Linked DNA regions of Homo sapiens: region 2 is linked to region 1. Evidence: fine-mapped expression QTL. A gene starts in region 1. The other region holds a variant in brackets. All regions are shown on one strand. Distances are from middle to middle. Region 1 holds the start of DNAH2 (dynein axonemal heavy chain 2). Region 2 overlaps DNAH2 (dynein axonemal heavy chain 2).

What was found. PIP is the estimated chance that this variant, and not a neighbour inherited with it, causes the effect.
Region 2: its variant is fine-mapped to the expression of DNAH2 in cerebellum (GTEx, PIP 0.91).

The regions. Positions count from the first base shown.
Region 1 is chr17:7,712,025-7,721,823 of GRCh38, forward strand. It overlaps DNAH2 (dynein axonemal heavy chain 2), which reads left to right and starts at 5,720. Exons shown (of 86, transcript NM_020877.5): 1 at 5,720-6,775; 2 at 7,697-7,876. The coding sequence starts at 7,711.
Region 2 is chr17:7,737,331-7,745,330 of GRCh38, forward strand. It overlaps DNAH2 (dynein axonemal heavy chain 2), which reads left to right. Exons shown (of 86, transcript NM_020877.5): 9 at 2,403-2,608; 10 at 3,090-3,219; 11 at 3,480-3,662; 12 at 5,598-5,812. Among named protein-coding and RNA genes, the nearest start is that of DNAH2, 24 kb to the left of the region's middle. The variant C/A (reference allele first, on the strand shown) is at 3,853.

The DNA of each region.
Region 1 (9,799 bases):
CCTCCCGCTGTCTCCCATCTGTCTGGAGGTCAAGGGGTCCCTCTTCCTCTCTTCTGTCCAGTGGGACCCCTGCTCCTCCCCCTCCCCGTCTGAGCAAGATGCCTGGGTCTTGAGAGGTGCGGGCACCGCAGGAGGGGAGTTGAAAGCTGGGAGGCCAGGTACTGGGCTGTCTGGAATTTACTCTTGCCTTCTGAGCCCACACTGGAGCTGCCCGAAGTGGGGAGGCTCGTAGGGGGTGGAAAGGCTGGTCCTTGCCCCTTAGTGGGGGTTGGTTGTCATGGCAACATCCCCTTCTCTACACAATGGGAAGCCCCCCTCAGCCTCCCGCGTGGATGGAGCCGACAGCCCCATCGCTGGCTATCAGCCTCAGGGACTTGGCAACCGTCACTATGGCAACCCAGAGCCCAGCAACAGGGCCCACTGAGAAAGGGAGGGGTCCAAGACTGGGGCAGGGTGGTGTGTGAGGGGCAAGGGAGATCAGGGAGACTCCCCCTCCACCTACATCTAGAGGCACAGGTGGAGAGACAAGAGGGAAGAGACGTGGGGATAAATAGTCTCCGTGACAGACAAGCACCTCGCCAAAGCAGCCAAGACATCATAACATGCTGAGAGACAGGAAGACACCTGGGGACAGATGCACAGCCAGGGAGAGGAACAGCACAGACTGCACAGCGCCTGGGACACGCCCCCTCAGAGCGCTGGCATCCAGAGACTCCCCGCAGCCCCGCTCGAATAGCACAAGACCAACAGCCTTTCACATGTGTAGTGACTTGGGTGTCTGGAGCTATTTGAAAATGCTGGTGACTTCCACGCAGAATAACACAGGCCGTCCTATTTGCTTTGTGGGGACAAATACACACACATATTCCTAGAGTAACAACTGCAACAAAACAACTACAGCAAAACGACTACAGGCACAGGAAGACATTTGTTTGTTCATTGGTTTGTTCGTTCACTCGCTCAGCAGCATGTTAAATGCTACTTTGTTTCAGGCACCGGTTCAGGCGCTGGGAGGACAGGGTGAGTAAGGCCAGGTCCCCGCTTTCACAAAGTCCACATTTAGGTGGGGAACGAAATAATACAATTTCAGGTGTGAAAAGGGATATAAACAAAACAGAATGACAGGATGAGGAGGATGGAGAGTAACCAGGAGCTGCTTTATTTATTTATTAATTTATTAATTTATTTATTTTTGAGATGGAATCTTGCTCTGTTGCCCAGGCTGGAGTGCAGTGGCGCGATCTCGGCTAACTGCAACCTCCACCTCCCGGGCTCAAGCGATGATTGTCCTGCCTCAGCCTCCCAAGTAGCTAGGATTAACAGGTGCCCGCCACCTTGCCCAGCTAAGTTTTGTATTTTTAGTAGGGTCGGGGTTTCAACATGTTGGCCAGGCTGGTCTCGAACTCCTGACCTTAGGTGCTCAGCCCACCTTGGCCTCCCAAAGTGCTGGGATGACAGGCATGAGCCACCGCACCCGGCCTGGAGCTGCTTTAGATGAGGAGGTCAGGAAGGTCCCTTTGAAAGAGATGCCCTTGATCAGGACCTTAAGTCATGAGACAGGAGTAAGCCATGCACACTGGGGACGGGCATGCTAGACAGAGGAACAGCAAGTGCACGGGCACAGAGGTGAGATTGTGGTGTGTTTGGGAACAGTAAGAAGGACATCACCACCACATGCATGTTTCGGATGTGTCCTGTTCTTCCCTAGCCTCGGCCTGGAGGGGAGTAAGTCACTTAGGGTCTTGGATCCACATTAAGGAAGTTGATCTCACTCAGTCTCCCATCCCCTTGCCTTTTGTTTCTTGTGTGTCTGTGACTTGTGTTTTCCTCGTCTAAATTTTAAGCTCTGGGAGGGCAAGGATGATGCTCTGAGCTTTTTTGGGGGCTGTGGCACAGCTGCTGGCAGAGTCCAGAGCAGGAAGGCAGAGCGGAAGTAAAGGAACCGAGAGGGCTGGGACCACAGAAGCTAGAGCTGTCGCCCTGCCATCCCCAAACCGCATAGGATTGAGGCTGTCTTGGGGCTGAGCTGTAGAGTGAAGCTCAGGCTTTGCCCTCCTTCCAAATAACGGCAGCTGAGGGATACTATTCAGCCCGAGGTGCGTGTGTGTGTGCGTGTGTGTGTGTGTGTGTGTGTGTGTGTGTTGGGGGTTTTTAGGGAAAGGGGAATGGGGCAAGGAGTGGCAGTGGGAATTTCTTTTCTTTTTCTTTTCTTTTTTTTTTTTTTTGAGACAGTCTCGCTCTGTGGCCCAGGCTGGAGTGCAGTGGTGCAATTCTCGTGCCTCAGCCTCCCGAGTAGCTGGGACTACAGGCATGTGCCACCACGCCCGGCTAATTTTTTGTATTTTTAGTAGAGATGGGGTTTCACCACATTGGCCAGGCTGGTCTTGAACTCCCGACCTCAGGTGATCCACCCACCTCAGCTTCCCAAAGTGCTGGAATTACAGATGTGAGCCACTGTGCCTGGCCTTGCAGTGGGAATTTCTGATGCGGAATGGTTGACATCATATCTGGAATTTTAATTAGAATGAAAAATGGCCCTTCCTAAGGGGCTATATGGGCCACCGTGGACATGGGGCTTGGGAGAGTTTTGAGACCTGGGAGAAATGTCACACGGTGGTTTGGAGGCAGGAGGCTGTCTGGCATAGGCTCAGAGTTGGGTGGGGGAAGGAAAAGGGACACAGAATGAATGGGAATGACAACTGGGCAGCCAGAGAGCTACTTGAAAGGTAGCAGGGAAAGTGGAGTTCTGAAGGGAGTTCTGAGGGGACCAGGCCCCAGGTACCCCAATTCCCACAGGGAATCGAAGTGTTCAGTTTTCTGGTTCTCCCTCTTCCTCCAGTTGCCATCAGAAACTCAGGCACCGCAACCCCAGTGGCTGGCGGGGTGATGTCGGGGGGAGACTGAGCTGCTTCAGGGGGTAGCAGCTGGTGAGTTGGGAGGAATCTGTGTGCTCAGCAAACAGCAGCCTCAGTGCCCGGTGGCTGCCTCCTCCCTCATCAATCAGCCCCAGCCAAATGTCCTTGCATTCCCACCACCCCAAGGGGACTGGGGCTGGGCCAGGGTCCCCAGGGGAGATGGGGATGGGTGGGGGGAGGTGAAGGGGGGTGCTTGGCTTCCTTTCCCTTGGCCTCTGTTCTCTTCTGTCCTGGAAGCTCTCAGTTCTTCATGTCATGGAATGACTATCCTGGCCCCTACCATCGTGGGGGCATCAGCTACAAATCACCTGTGGGGGGCTGCTGGGGGAGAAGGATGAGTCAGGCTGTAGAGTAATCTACTCTGGTTCTCACGGGACCAGCCCAGGGCACAGCCGGCAGGGAGGCTGCTGGCATAGAGGCCCTGTCTCCCCTGGCCTCTGTCTCTGATGAATGATCCGGACAGCAGGCCGAGACCCTGACCCCTGGAATGGACCTCTCTTTCCACCTTCTCCTAGCCCCCAGTCCTCATCCCCTGCTTCCAGCCAAGATCCAGAGGTCTGGCCCCCAGCTCACCCCAAATCTGCTGTTCCCCACTAGGGACTGGGGTCTCTAGACCTTAGCCTCTGGCTCCCTTTCCCCCTCCTCAGCCTTTGCTCCCCTCCGGGACCCAGGCGTCCTGCCCACTCCCTTCACCATAACAACCATTCTTTTGGAGTTGCTTAAGACTTTAATATCATTTCATTAAGTCAGCAAGTTCAGAGAAGGTTGGGGGCACAAAGAGACTGGGGGTGGGCAAAAGAGGGCCAAAGTAGGGGGGAGGCAAGGAAAGATCCCCCACCCCCCTCTCCGTGGAGATGGCTCTGAGAAATCAAATATTGACAATGAGGGAACAGAACTTATTAAATCTGGGACAGGGATGTGTGTGGGGAGCTGTGGGAATGGCCGGATGCCTGGGTTCGGAGGGTAATGAAGGTTCTGGGAGGAGGAAAAGGGCCGTGGCTGGGAGGTGCAGCAAGGCTGAGGCTCGAGGTCACAACTCTTCTGCCCTTTCCTTTGGGATGTACACGGTCTTGCAACCCTGGCTGTTTCTCTAGCCCCGAAGAGCCCCTGGGGAAAAGACCCCCATCATAGCTAGCTGTGGTTGCCCCGCCTTCGTCCCTTCCCCCTACCTCCACCTCTGTTGATGAGCTTCAGCAGCGTTTAATCGGATTGAGCAGTAATTAGCAAAGCGAGATGTTTGATTACCTATTTAGCATAATGTGGGGGGCTGGGATCCGTAGGCACAGCCACAGTTGGGGAGGGGGGTTTAAGAAAAGAAATGGGGTCTGTGCAAAGTTCCTTTCCCCGAGGGACCCATGAACCTTGCCCCTGAGGCTCCCCACCCCACGCCTCCAGCAAATTTTCACTCCTTTGGGACTTTTCCCTAGGGGTTCTGGCCAACCACATCACCTCTGTCTGCCACCCATGGCCTATCTGGCTAGAGGAACACCTCCACGTTCCATCTTAGCTGTGCTAGCTGTGCAGCTGGTTTTGGGGTGGGCGGTACTCCTCTCCTTCCATTCCTGCTGTCAGCAACAGGAGTCTGGCTGGGCAGGAGGAATTATTGGGGGTCGGGGGGAGGGAAAGGGTTGACACTTCTGGGAATAAAGATACGGTAGGTGGGAGGGTGAGGTCAGCGCTGGGATAGGGTGTGGTTAATCCACTTGCTCTTCAGGAGTACCAGGGACTGCCACTCCTGGTAGTGCCAGGCTGGCATAATGAGATCTGTTAGGTGTGAACGCCAAACAGAAAATGGGGGAACTGAGGTGCCAGCTTCTCTTCTCCTCATCCAGCAAAGAAAATGTCATAAATTTCGCTCCTCATGGAAATGTAATCAGTGGGCTCGCTGCTGGCTTTGTCTTAATTAGGCACTATTGATGGAAACAGGGAGGGCGCCTTCCCATCCCCCCACTCGGCTTCCTCCCTGTATTTCCCAGGTCTCCCCAAAGCTCCTCCCGGCACCAGGTACAGCGGTCTTCCAGGCGCCTTCTAGCAGCCCCGGCCCGCAGCGCCCCCTGGCACCCTCGGAGATGTACCCCGGCCCTCATAGCCCTCCCCTCTCGCCTCCTCTCTCACGACGCAGCCTTTGTTCCTATGGAGAGCGAAGCCCCTCCCAGGCCCGGTCACCTTCCCCAGGGAGTCCCCGCCTCTCATCCCCCCCAAAAACCAGCGATGCCTTCGAAAGCCAATCCTCAGATTCCCAAAACTCCAGTTCCCGTCTTCCCTCCCTTTCCCCGCCCCGCGCCGCCCCCCCGCAATCCTAGACCCCAATCCGAACTAAGAAGGGGGAAGGAGCAGGAGGGCAAGGGTGCTCCAGGCCCGGTTTTTCCCCCGGATCCAGCTGCACCCACGGCTGCCTGGAAATCCTGGAACGCCTTCTACATCGCGAATATCCCTCGCCGGCCTGGCGCCCGGCGCCATCTGCTGGACCCGTTCCGGCTGGGGCGCACAGACCTGGGCGCGGGGTCGGGCGATTGGGTTCTCCCTGCCTTTTCAATGTCCTGCGGGGCGGTGGCTCACTGTCTCTCGCCCCAGCCCTTCCAGCTGGGTCCTGACACCAGGCCCCCCGCACCCTTCGGCTCGCCAGATGTGGCTACTTTCCTTTAGTCCCGGAGCCTTCAAGCCCTGGGTCCCTGAGGGGTAGACCTGGGCGGGGTGGGGCCGCGAAGCAGGGATCCAGGGCGCCTGCGCGGAGGAGGCGGGCTCCGAGGGGCCGCACACCGGCCACTCGCCCCTCCCTGCCCGGGGTTGCCATGGGGACGCGTGCAGACGCCGGCCCGAGAGGGCTGCGAGGGGCAACTTCTTAGAGTGGCCCATCGGTCGGTCTAGGGAGGGGAGGGTCAGCGTGGCAAGGTGTGTGTCGGGGGCAGAGGGAAGGAGGGAAGGAGTGCTGGGGAGAAGGGGCAGTAGTGTCGGGGTAGGAAGGGACAGTTGTTGGGGAGAAGAGGCAGTTGTGGAGGGAGAGGGAGCAAGGAATATTTGTGTGGGGGAGGGGGAGGAGAAGGGGCAGTTGTGACAGCTGGGGGGGAAGAGCCATTCTGAGGGGAAATTTGCCTGCTGGTAACCAGTTTAAGGATACCAGCTGCTGGTATAAATACTGCTGGATAAATACTGCTGGATTTATACTGCAGGATAAATACTGCTGGCCCCTGCGGTATTTCCTAGTACTAGAGTGAGCCCCGACTTAGCAGAGCAGTTCCTCCTGGGGCCTGCGGTGTGGGATCGCGTGGTGAACCCCACGGTGCATGCGCCTCAGGCTCTAGTTTGAGGCAGGAAAGCGCAGCTTGATGCTTCTCTGGAGACTGATGGAGGAAGCCTCCTTGCTGTAGTTGGTTTTATTGATTTGCTGGCCTAACAGAACGTTTTTCCTTGGAGCAAAGTACAAATCCTTCAAGTTTGAAATTCATAACCTGAGATCAATGCCTGTGGCAGCCTGTGGGGATGAGGAAGGAGAGCCACAGGTGCCGTTAGGCTGCAGCCTAATGAAAAGAGAGTGCCCAGCGCCTCAGACTTTGCGCCTGGGATTCTGAGCACCTGTCCGAGATCCCCGCTTCCTGCCATCCTACCTTTCTGAGAGAGGCACCACTGTGACCTTCCTCGTGCCCCAATTGCTTTTTCCTCATGACACAATTTGAAATTTATGATTGGATGACTTTTGTCCTTCTTTCTTCCAATCTGTTCTCAGGGCATTTTGAGTCAAATAAATGATCCTGACTGATCTTAACCATTAGCACAGAGTTCCTCAGCCAACTCTGCTAAGAGACCTCAGTACACACAAAACAGTGTTCCTGCCCCTCAGGACTTCAAAGCGATAGACCCAGGTGGCAAATACTGTTTTTCTCTGTTTACAGATGTTGCAGATTTTAGTGGGATTGGGAGGAGCATATTTCCATTTAACTTGGGAGGAAAAGAGGTACATAGGAAAATCATCTTGGTTTGCTTGAATGATTGAACAGTGACAAAGGATGGGGGATGTGCACCCCTTCCTTGATCCTCTCTCACTCACTCATGGTCCTGGAGGGTAGAGTGGATGAGGGTTTGGGCAACCACACTTCAGCTTGATAGATCTTTTCCTGATTATCTTATGTTCTCATACCCCGGGGCAGAGATAGAGGTTCTAAATCCTCATTAGTGGGGTGTCTGGCCATCTTTTTTTTTTTTTTTTTTGAGATAGAGTCTCACTCTGTCAGCCAGGCTGGAGTATAGTAGCATGATCTTGGCTCACTGCAGCCTCTACCTCTCGGGTTCAAGAGATTCTCCTGCCTCAGCCTCCCGAGTAGCTGGAATTACAGGCACGCACCACCACTCCTGGCTAATTTTTTGTATTTTTAGTAGAGACGGGGTTTTGCCATGTTGGCCAGGCTGGTCTCGAACTCCTGACCTCAGGTGATCCACCCGGCTCGGCCTCCCAAAATGCTGGGATTACAAGCATGAGCCACCGCACCCAGCCTGGCCATCATCTTTAACTCCCATTTGTTCCTAGTGCCTTGAGGGACTGACTTTGATTTTTAGCCCAGTGCCCCGAAGACAGTAGGATATCCTAGGGAAAAACAGCAAGGCCTCCCAGGCCCCTGTGGAGTACAGAGCCCTTGTGGTTAATGGAGCAGGGTGTGGGTACCACCAGAAAAGATGATCATATTGAGTTTCAGTCAATTTATGAATTCAAAAGGGACTGCTTGTATCAGGGGGCTGGTTCAGGGGTGGTATCTGCTTGTAGACTCTCCACTCCTGTATACCTGTAGGTTTTGCCTGCACGATGTCCAGCAAAGCTGAGAAGAAGCAGCGATTGAGTGGCCGAGGAAGCTCCCAGGCAAGCTGGTCAGGGCGGGCCACTCGGGCTGCTGTGGCCACACAGGAGCAGGGGAATGCCCCGGCTGTCAGTGAGCCAGAGCTGCAGGCTGAGCTCCCCAAGGAGGAGCCTGGTGGGTACTTGCTGGGGCAGAGGATGCTTAGCAATGGAGGGTGGGGAAAGTCAGAGGGGCTTGGAGGCATTTTAGGGCTGGGGAGCAGGCGCTGTTGCTTCTGGGCAGGAAACGGGCTAAGTGACGCCCCCAGCCATGGAGGTTCAGCAGCCCTGCCACTGAGTCCTTTTTTTGTATGTCTTCCTCCTGGCCAGCCTCATCCTTGTTCTTTCTGTCTTAAAATTTCCCACAATATACCAGGAGTTCACCAACCAGTCCTTTCTCTAGCCTCTTCCTCCTTATTTCAAGTGTTCCTGGTTGCTCCTACCCCACTGAAGAGGGTTTGATCTCTTCCTTTTTCCCATTTTCACCCTGGGTGGCAAAACAAATAATGTTTTTCTCCCATTAAGCCCATCACCATGGAGACTCAGCCTGTTTTGCCACCCTTTGAATCCAAAGCCCGGCTGATGCTTTCTACCATCTGTTGAGGGCTGTTCTATCTCCGCCCTCATTTTGGCAGGGACTTGGTAGACTGCGGAGGTTCAGGTTCAGGATGACAGGAAAGAAGTCTAGATCTAGGGAGGAAAGAGTTTAACGAGGCAGCCTCTTGTGGCTTTGACCTGAGGGATTCCTTTCCTGTGGGTGAGCCGGAGCCAGTAAGGTTGGAAGGTTTTTGGTAGTTGTTGCTATTGCTGGGATCTCCCTGAGAGCACTGGTCAGTGTAGACAGGACTATGAGCTAAGTGTAGACCTCCTTCTTTACCTGGAGCTCCTTTACACTGATAGTAGCTTGTGAAATAGAATCCCCTTCTAAAATTAAAGGTTGAGAGGTTAAGCGTGGGCATGGGAGAAAAGTCCCTGGGCCATAAGAACTTGCATTAGGTTCCAGGATCTTAGAAATGTGCAGAATGTATCCTTCTGAGTTCTGAAGTGCTCAGGTGAAAGCAGTTAAAATGGGATTGCTCGCTGCTAGGAGGAGTAGGGGAAGATGGGAGGGAAGACAGTGAGGTTCAGTATGGAGAATCCTCTGGGGAGGTAAGGGAAGGAGCTTTAAAATGAATGTGTTGGCCTTCGAACAGCAAGGATTTCTGCCTCTCCCAGCTCCAAGCTTTCTTTTCTTTCTTTCTTTTTTTTTTTTTTTTTTTTTTGAGACAAATTCTCACTCTGTCTCCCAGCCTGGAGTGCATTGGCATAATCTCAGCTCACTGCAACCTCTGCCTCCCGGGCTCAAGTGATTCTTGTGCCTCAGCCTCCCAAGTAGCTGGGATTACAGGCATACACCACCATGCCCAGCTTATTTTTTTTATTTTTTTGAGACAGAGTCTCTCTCAGTTGCCAAGGCTAGAGTGCAGTGGTGCGATCTCAGTTCACTGCAACCTCCACCTCCTGGGTTCAAGCGATTCTCCTGCCTCAGCCTCCTGAGTAGCTGGGATTACAGGCGTGTGCCACCACACCCGGCTAATTTTTGTATTTTTAGTAGAGATGGGGTTTCACCATGTTGCCCAGGCTGGTCTCGAACTCCTGTCCTCGAGTGATCCACCTGCCTCGGCCTCCCAAAGTGCTGGGATTACAGGCGTGAGCCACCGCACCCAGTCTCCCCTGGCCTAGTTCTTGCCTGGAACCTGAATGCCAGCAGTTTTCCCAAGGGAGTTGGATCATCTCACCTACTCACCTACTACTAAGCTCCGGAATCGCCTGTTCCATCTTTTCACGCCTTCCTGCCTCGGCCTCTGTGCCTCATTCCCCTCTTAGTTTTCCTTTCTGGAAGCCAGAGGGAGTTTCCTGTTCCTCATGGTCTTTTGGTTATATCTCATTTGTTCCTTCCTCCTTTCAGCCCCTGGGGAATGGGAAAGCCACCAGTTTTACTCCAATCTCCTGTGTGACTAGTAGATCAGGAGGCAGAGAAACAGAGCCGCTGGGTTTTATGGGAGTCAGAGTGGGTGTG
Region 2 (8,000 bases), 24 kb after region 1:
TTCGGCAGAGGATCTGTGGTTGAAAAGGTAGTGAAGATTGCCCTTCTGCTCAGAGACTGAGCTCAGAAGGCTTCTACCGGCATGATCTGCTTTAGGGTTGCTCAGCATTGGAGCCTGGGCTGGACTTTCTGTTTCTAGGTGGAGGTGGCTTAGGCAGGAAGAGGGGCTTCAGAAGAGGAGTTGGTGGAAGACGGGGAAGCAGCAGGAAGAACAGACCCCCAAGCTGAGCTGTGTGGAAGGAAAAGCTCTTCTTCCCATTCCTCAAGATGGAGATTGCAGTGGGGGAGAGGGGATTTAGGAAGGAGCACCGGCTCTTGAGGAGCAGGGCCTGGTGCATTCACTGGGGGTGAAAAAGCCAAAGAGTGGGAGAAGGGACACTGAGCTGAGACCTTGCTGGGCAGGGTGGCTGCAGAGCTGGGCTGAGGCAGAGTAAGGGGCCACCTAGGACAAGGAGTGGGCATGGAACCCAGAGGTGTCGGCCTGGCCAGGGGTGGAGAACCAGGGGTGGGATGAGTTTCAGGAGTCAAATTAAGGAGTAGGGGGCTGAGACATGAAGCACGGGCAGGGGGATGCAGAGAAGGAGTTGGGTGTCAAGGAGGTGGGGACAGAGGCTGTGGGGACTCCTTCTGCAGATGAGCAATGAGATCATCCGCTTATGCTGCCACGCCATCTCCCTGGACCGGATCTTTGAGGGATATGTCTCTTCCAGCAAGGAGGACCTGCAAGGCTGCATTCTCTGTTGTCACGCTTGGAAAGATCACTACGTACAGGCTGTGCAGATGCACATCCAGTATGATACGCCTCCCCTAACATCCCATGTCTCAACTCCCTTGTCAGCCCTGTAAGAGGGTAGATTCTGACTTCTTTCCTGTACACTTTGTTTAGCCTCTTGGTTGTATTTTCCGAGACCCAGGAGTTTCTACATCTGGCCAAATTTTCTGTCTGGATACAGATACTGTATCTCATTGCCCTGGCTTCTCCTTTTTTGTTTTTTAATTTTAATTTTAATTTTTTTTTGAGACAGAGTCTTGGTCTGCCACCCAGGCTGGAGTGCAGTGGCGCGATCTCAGCTCACTGCAAGCTCAGCCTCCGAGGTTCATGCCATTCTCCTGCCTCAGCCTCCCCAGTAGCTGGGACTACAGGTGCCCGCCACCATGCCAGGCTAATTTTTTGTATTTTTAGTAGAGACAGGGTTTCACCGTGTTAGCCAGGGTGGTCTCGATCTCCTGACCTTGTGATCTGCTCGCCTTGGCCTCTCAAAGTGCTGGGATTACAGGCGTGAGCCACCACGCCCTGCCTGGCTTCTTATTTTAATAATCTCTCCTCCCTGATCCCAGGAACCCTACCTGGTCTTTTCCTCCTATCTTGACCCCATCGTCTAAAATTCTATTATGTATGAATCTGCTCCTAGAACTTAGATGCTCTGTCTCCTGTCTGGTTCTTCTCACCTTGAGTCTTGTCCTTTGGGATTCAGGAGGGTTGTTTCTCGGGGTCTGATTTTTCTAGGGCTTTCCCTGAATGCAGGGCTCCTGGTCTAGGTTTGCATAGCCAGACTGCTCTTGCCTTCCAATTCAGTCGGCCTTTCTCCTGACACAGGTTCTCCAGTCGGGGCTGGGTCCTAGATCAGACCAGCATCTTTGCTCAGGTTGATGCCTTTGTGCAGCGCTGCAAGGACCTTATTGAGGTGGGAAGACTGAAGAACCAAAAGCTAACAGCAGACCCTCCAGAATCCCTCCCCACCTCCCACCCCAGGAACCAGGGCAAACGGGGCAGAGGCTAAATATTGAACTTATGGCCAGGCGCGGTGGCTCACGCCTGTAATCCCAGCACTTTGGGAGGCTGAGGCGGGCAGATCACCTGCGATCAGCAGTTCGAGACCAGCCTGGCCAACATGGTGAAACCCCGTCTCTACTAAAAATACAAAAATTAGCCGGGCCTGGTGGTGCATACCTGTAATCCTAGCTGCTTGGGAGGCTGAGGCAGGAGAATCTCTTGAACCCGGGAAGCGGAGGTTGCAGTGAGCCGAGATCATGCCACTGCACTCCAGCCTGGGCAACAGAGAGAGACTCTGTCTCAAAAAAATAAAAGAAAAGAAAATTGCACTTACCACATTGGCTTTTCCTGCACAATTGTGTGTCCTACTACCACACCGCTTTTTCTGGCATTTGCCTCTTATCGCTGCCCTACTATTTCATATTTCATTCTGTGGCCAAAGTTCATCCCAGCAGCCCCCTGCAGCTGGTTGGCCCTCCCTGGTTTTTAGATATTTTCTTCTTCTTTTTTTTTTTTTCACTTGCCATCACTCACAGTGATGTTTTTAGACATTTGAAGCTAAACCAAATAGCTTAGGACTTTGGAGTTTGGAAGGAAAGCAGGAACCCTCATGCTGTCTTCTTTTTTAGGTATGTGACTGTCAGTATCACTTCGCCCGCTGGGAAGATGGCAAGCAGGGTCCCCTTCCTTGCTTCTTTGGTGCCCAGGGGCCACAGATAACACGGAACTTGCTGGAGATTGAGGACATCTTTCATAAAAATCTGCACACGCTGCGAGCCGTTCGCGGGGGTATCCTGGATGTCAAGAACACCTGTTGGCATGAAGACTACAATAAGTGAGGGAACCACAGGCTGATGCCAGGCGTGGGCAGGGAAGGCAGATCAGGCAGCCAAGAGTGGGAGGAGTGGCGAGAGTATGCAAAGGAAATGGTGGAAGGACAGATCGGGATCAGGGCGGTGGCCCGGGGGGGGGGACAGGAGAGAGTGCAGGGGAGGGGGGTGGCAGCTTGGGTTGAGGGTTCCAGAGTGAGCCTTTCCGGACTTGGATCTTGGTTCTGCCACATACCAGATATATGACATTGGGCAAATTACTCCACCAGCTGTCTCCACTTCCTCCTCTATGCAATACGGTTAGAGATAGAGCCCATCTCACAGCATTGTTTTGAGGATTAAATGGATTCATGTAGGTAAAGTACTTGGAGTGCCTGGCACACAGGAAGCCCTCTGTCCTCAGCAATGCATGGGATTCTTCCTCAGGGGTTGGAGTTGGGGGCAGGCGAGGGCACTCAGCTGCCACATGCCTCTCCACCGGTGCAGGTTCCGTGCCGGAATCAAGGACCTGGAGGTGATGACCCAGAACCTGATCACCTCAGCCTTCGAGTTGGTGCGGGACGTGCCGCACGGCGTGCTTCTGCTGGACACCTTCCACAGGCTTGCCTCCCGCGAGGTGCGGCTGCCCCGCGGCTTCCTCGGCTTCCCGTCCCGCGTGCTTTCCTGGAGTCCCTCCTTCCGGAGGCCCTCCTGCCTCCACGTGTGCCCTTCTCCATGTCCAGCATTCGGGCGCCTCTTGTCTTTCTTCTGTTCCCTGGCTTCGGCGTCCCCGGGAGTGTGACTCCCGCAGCGGGGTGCAGCTTTCCTCTGGGATGAGTGACCGGAGGGAACCCGCCTTCCCGGGCACGTCGCCAGCCTCTTCCTCTTCTTCCCTAGGCTATCAAGCGGACTTATGACAAGAAGGCGGTGGATCTCTACATGCTGTTCAATAGCGAGCTGGCCCTGGTGAACCGTGAACGGAACAAGAAATGGCCAGACCTGGAGCCCTACGTGGCCCAGTATTCCGGAAAGGCGCGCTGGGTGCACATCCTCCGGCGTCGCATCGACAGAGTCATGACCGTAAGTGCCTGGCCTTCTCCATATTCTGTCGTCAGTGAGACCGCCAGGAGGGATGGGGGATGGCTCCTGAGAGGTTCCCCAAAGAGTCTTCAGGACCAGCACCTATGTCGGTGAGGGGAGTGGCAGGTCCAGTTCAGTGAGGTCAGTCGTGGGTTAAGATCTGCAGAGGTGGTGTGTGAGGCTGGTAGAA[C/A]ATGCGCCATTTTAGGAATTTCTTTTCTTCCTTCCTTTCTTTTTTTTCTCTCTCTCTTTCTTTCTTTCTTTCTTTCTTTCTTTCTTTCTTTCTTTCTTTCTTTCTTTCTTTCTTCCTTCCTTCCCTCCCTCCCTCCCTCCCTCCTTCCTTCCTTCCTTCCTTCCTTCCTTCCTTCCTTTCTTTTTGTTTTTTTGAGACGGAGTCTCACACTGTCGCCCAGGCTGGAGTGCAATGGCTCGATCTCAGCTCACTGCAAGCTCTGCCTCCCGGGTTCACACCATTCTCCTGCCTCAGCCTCCCGAGTAGCTGGGACTACAGGTGCCCGCCACCGCACCCAGCTAATTTTTTTGTATTTTTAGTAGAGATGGGGTTTCACCGTGTTAGCCAGGATGGTCTGAGTCTCCTGACCTCATGATCCACCCACCTGGGCCTCCCAAAGTGCTGGGATTACAGGCGTGAGCCACCGCGCCCGGCTTCTTTTTCTTTTTTCTTTTTTTCTGAGATGGAGTTTTGCTCTTGTTGCCCAGGCTGGAGTGCAGTGGTGTGATCTCGGCTCACCGCAACCTTCGCCTCCCAGGTCCAAGCGATTCTCCTGCCTTAGCCTCTCAGGAGCTGGGATTACAGGCATGCACCACCACGCCCGGCTAATTTTGTATTTTTAGTAGAGAAGAGGTTTCTCCATGTTGGTCAGGCTGGTCTCGAACTCCCGACCTCAGGTGATCCACCCACCTTGGCCTCCCAAATTGCTGGGATTACAGGCATGAGCCACTGCGCCCGGCCTCATTTTAGGAATTTCATATCAGGCTGCAGAGGAGGAATAGGGCCGGTATCTGGGGTGTTGGGTCAGTAGAAGATACAGCCTCATGATCCAGAGACCTGGACAGGTGACACCCTTACAGAGCCTGGTCTCTCTGGAAAGACAGCACAAAGAAACAACAGAAAAACATTGTTTTAAAACTTTCTGGGGCCAGGTGCGGTGGCTCACACCTGTAATCCCAGCACTTTGGGAGGCCAAGGTGGGTGGATCATTTGAAGTTAGGAGTTCATGACCAGTTTGGCCAACATGGTGAGACCCTGTCTCTACTAAAAATACAAAAAGTTAGCCAGGTGTGGTGGCGGGCACCTGTAATCCCAGCTATTTGGGAGGCTAAGGCAGGACAATTGCTTGAACCCTGGAGGCAGAAGTTGCAGTGAGCCGAGATCGCGCCACTGTACTCCAGCCTGGGTGGTGGAGAGAGACTCTGTCACAAACAAACAAAACAAACAAATGAACACACACACCCTTTGGGAATAAAGGTTGAAAGCTGTTGAGGTAGTGACCTGCCATCATGCAGCTGGTGCTGGTAGAGAGTTAGGCAGCCTGCAGATAGCTGGAGGCTGGTTTGGGCCTGGTGGACTACGCCCAGGCTAGGAAGGGCTGATACTGGTTTTCAACCTTGTGCCTCATATCCTGCTCCTTCTGTGACTGACCTTTTTCTCCCAGCTTTTTTTCCTAAACAAATTCTCTGTGCTTCTCTTTCCTCATTTTGACTCCTTTTCTCATTGCGCCTTGGTCTCTTCCTATCACCTTCCTTTTTGACTCTACCTTCCTTCTAAGTTATCAAAACTCAATCCATCTCCATAGCAAGCCTTATGCATATTGTTGGGGTATGTGCGCATGCGCGCATGTGTAGGTCTCAGGGAGATGGTGGCCCCTGGAGGAAGGTGGCAGGCCGACTCCACCCACCTGTTCTTCTTCCCCTCAGTGCCTTGCTGGTGCTCATTTCCTGCCCCGTATTGGGACTGGAAAGGAGAGTGTGCACACCTATCAGCAGATGGTCCAGGCCATTGATGAGCTGGTTCGAAAAACCTTCCAAGAGTGGACATCAAGTCTGGACAAGGATTGCATTCGGCGGTTGGATACCCCATTGCTGCGAATCAGCCAGGAGAAGGCGGGCATGCTGGATGTCAACTTTGACAAGTACAGGAGCCACCTGGCCCCTTTTCCCTATACTCCCCTTCTGCAGCTCTCCCAAGAATTTCACTCCCATCTTTTGACTCCTCTCTTCATTATTCTCTCTCTTTCTCATACAATATGTTTGCTATCGTCATTTTACTTTTTTTTTTCTTCTTTTATTTTTGTCTCTCCCCACCTCCCACCCTGCTATCAACATTTTAATTTTACAACTTATCTTAAAACACAACAAAACAAAACAATGATCGGCCAGGCACGGTGGCTCACACCTGTAATCCCAGCACTTTGGGAGGCTGAGGTGGGCGCATCGCTTGAGCCCAGGAGTTTGAGAACAGCCTGGGCAACATGGCAAAACCCAGTCTCTGCAAAAAATACAAAGATTAGCTGGGCGTGGTGGCACAAGCCTGTAGTCTCAGCTACTTGGGAGGGTGAGGTGGGAGGATCGCCTGAGCCCGGGAGGCAGAGGCTGCAGTGAGCTGAGATCACACCACTACACTCCAGCCTGGGCGACAGAGTGACCCTGCCTCAAAAACAAAAATCAAAAACCACTCCACTATCTGACTAAACCAGTGATGTCGCTGTTCTGCCACTAGATGGCCATAATGGCTCAGCTAAGTCACCCAAACCCTGTCCCTTTCCTGACTGTTGGTGGGGCTGTCAGACCATGCCTTCTTCTACAGCTTCATTGTTATGAAACTGTCATACTATAATTATTTAAAATGTAATTAATCAATTAACTAATTTATTAAAAATATATAGTGAGCACCTTCCATGTGTCAGGAACTGAAATAGGAACAGGCAGGGAATGTACACAACGGCCAAGTCCCTGCCCTCAGGGAGGTTAGGCTGCTGCTTTCTAAGTCAACAGCTCTACTCTTGGAGTGGGGCTTCCTGTCCACATAAGATGCTTTGAGGCTGTGGCTACTAGTGTTGGATTCCACTCATAAAATGTCCATGCTTGAGCCTGGCCAGCATGGCGAAACCCTGTCTCTACTAAAAATACAAAAATTAGCTGGGCATTGTGGCAGGTGCCTATAATCCTAGCTACTTGGGAGGCTGAGGCAGGAAAATCGCTTGAACCCGGGAGGCGGAGGTTGCAGTGAGCCGAGATCACGCCATTGCACTCCAGCCTGGGCGACAGAGTGAGTCTCCGTCTCAAAAAAAAAAAAAAAAAAAAAAAAATGCTTGTGGGGCCAAATGTAGGAGGGGCTTTGCCAGAGAAGTGCTGTGTGGAGACGGAGTCCCAGGGACAGATGAGACTGTGAGTGTTTGTCCTGGGCAGCAAAAGGTGGCCCAACCAGGGGAAGAGGGCACATTCTGGCTGAGAAAGGAAGCAAAAGAACCAGGATGGAGAAGCAGAGCGGAGTGTCAGGTGAGAGGGGTGAGGCAGAGGCATCAGTGAGGAGGACAGGGATGTTGGGAGCTGCAGGGATGAGGAAGCCGTTGAGGAGCAGAGTGTGCACATGGCTAGGTCGAGAGGTTTGAGAAAAGGCTTCGAGTAGTGAGAGTTGTTGGAGATTGGCTTTGCTGAGCTTCCTGGTTTTGTGAGTTATGGCCAAGCACAGCCACGTAAACATTGCCTCATAAATCAACGATAAGATTCTGAAGACTGAGAAACTAGGCCAGAGTTAGCCTAGTTACGCCATTTGCAAGCGCATAATGGGGTTGAACCTGCAAGACACATTCTCCCATCGAGCTGGGTACCCCCAAAGTTATTGTGTCAGGGGAGCCGCACAGATGCCCTTGGTGTTTATGGATATGAGGGCACACAGTTCACCAGCTGTCCTTTTTCTGTGAAATAAGGGATTGTATTCAAATAACAGGATTTCCTTAAACACTAATGATCAATCTTTACATTTCTTTTTTTTTTTTTCTTGAGACAGAGTCTCACTCTGTCGCCCAGGTTGGAGTGCAGTGGCGCAATCTTGGCTCACTGCAACCTCCGCCTCCTGAGTTCAAGCAATTCTCCTGCCTCAGCCTCCCGAGTATCTGGGATTACAGGCGCCCGCCACCACGCCCGGCTAATTTTTGTGTTTTTATTAGAGATGGTGTTTTGCCATGTTGGCCAAGCTGGTCTTAAAATCCTGACCTCAGGTGATCTGGCCACCTCGGCCTCCCAAAGTGCTGGGATTACAGGCATGAGCCACTGTGTCTGGCCAAGTATTTACATTTCAAATATGAGAGAAAACAAAAG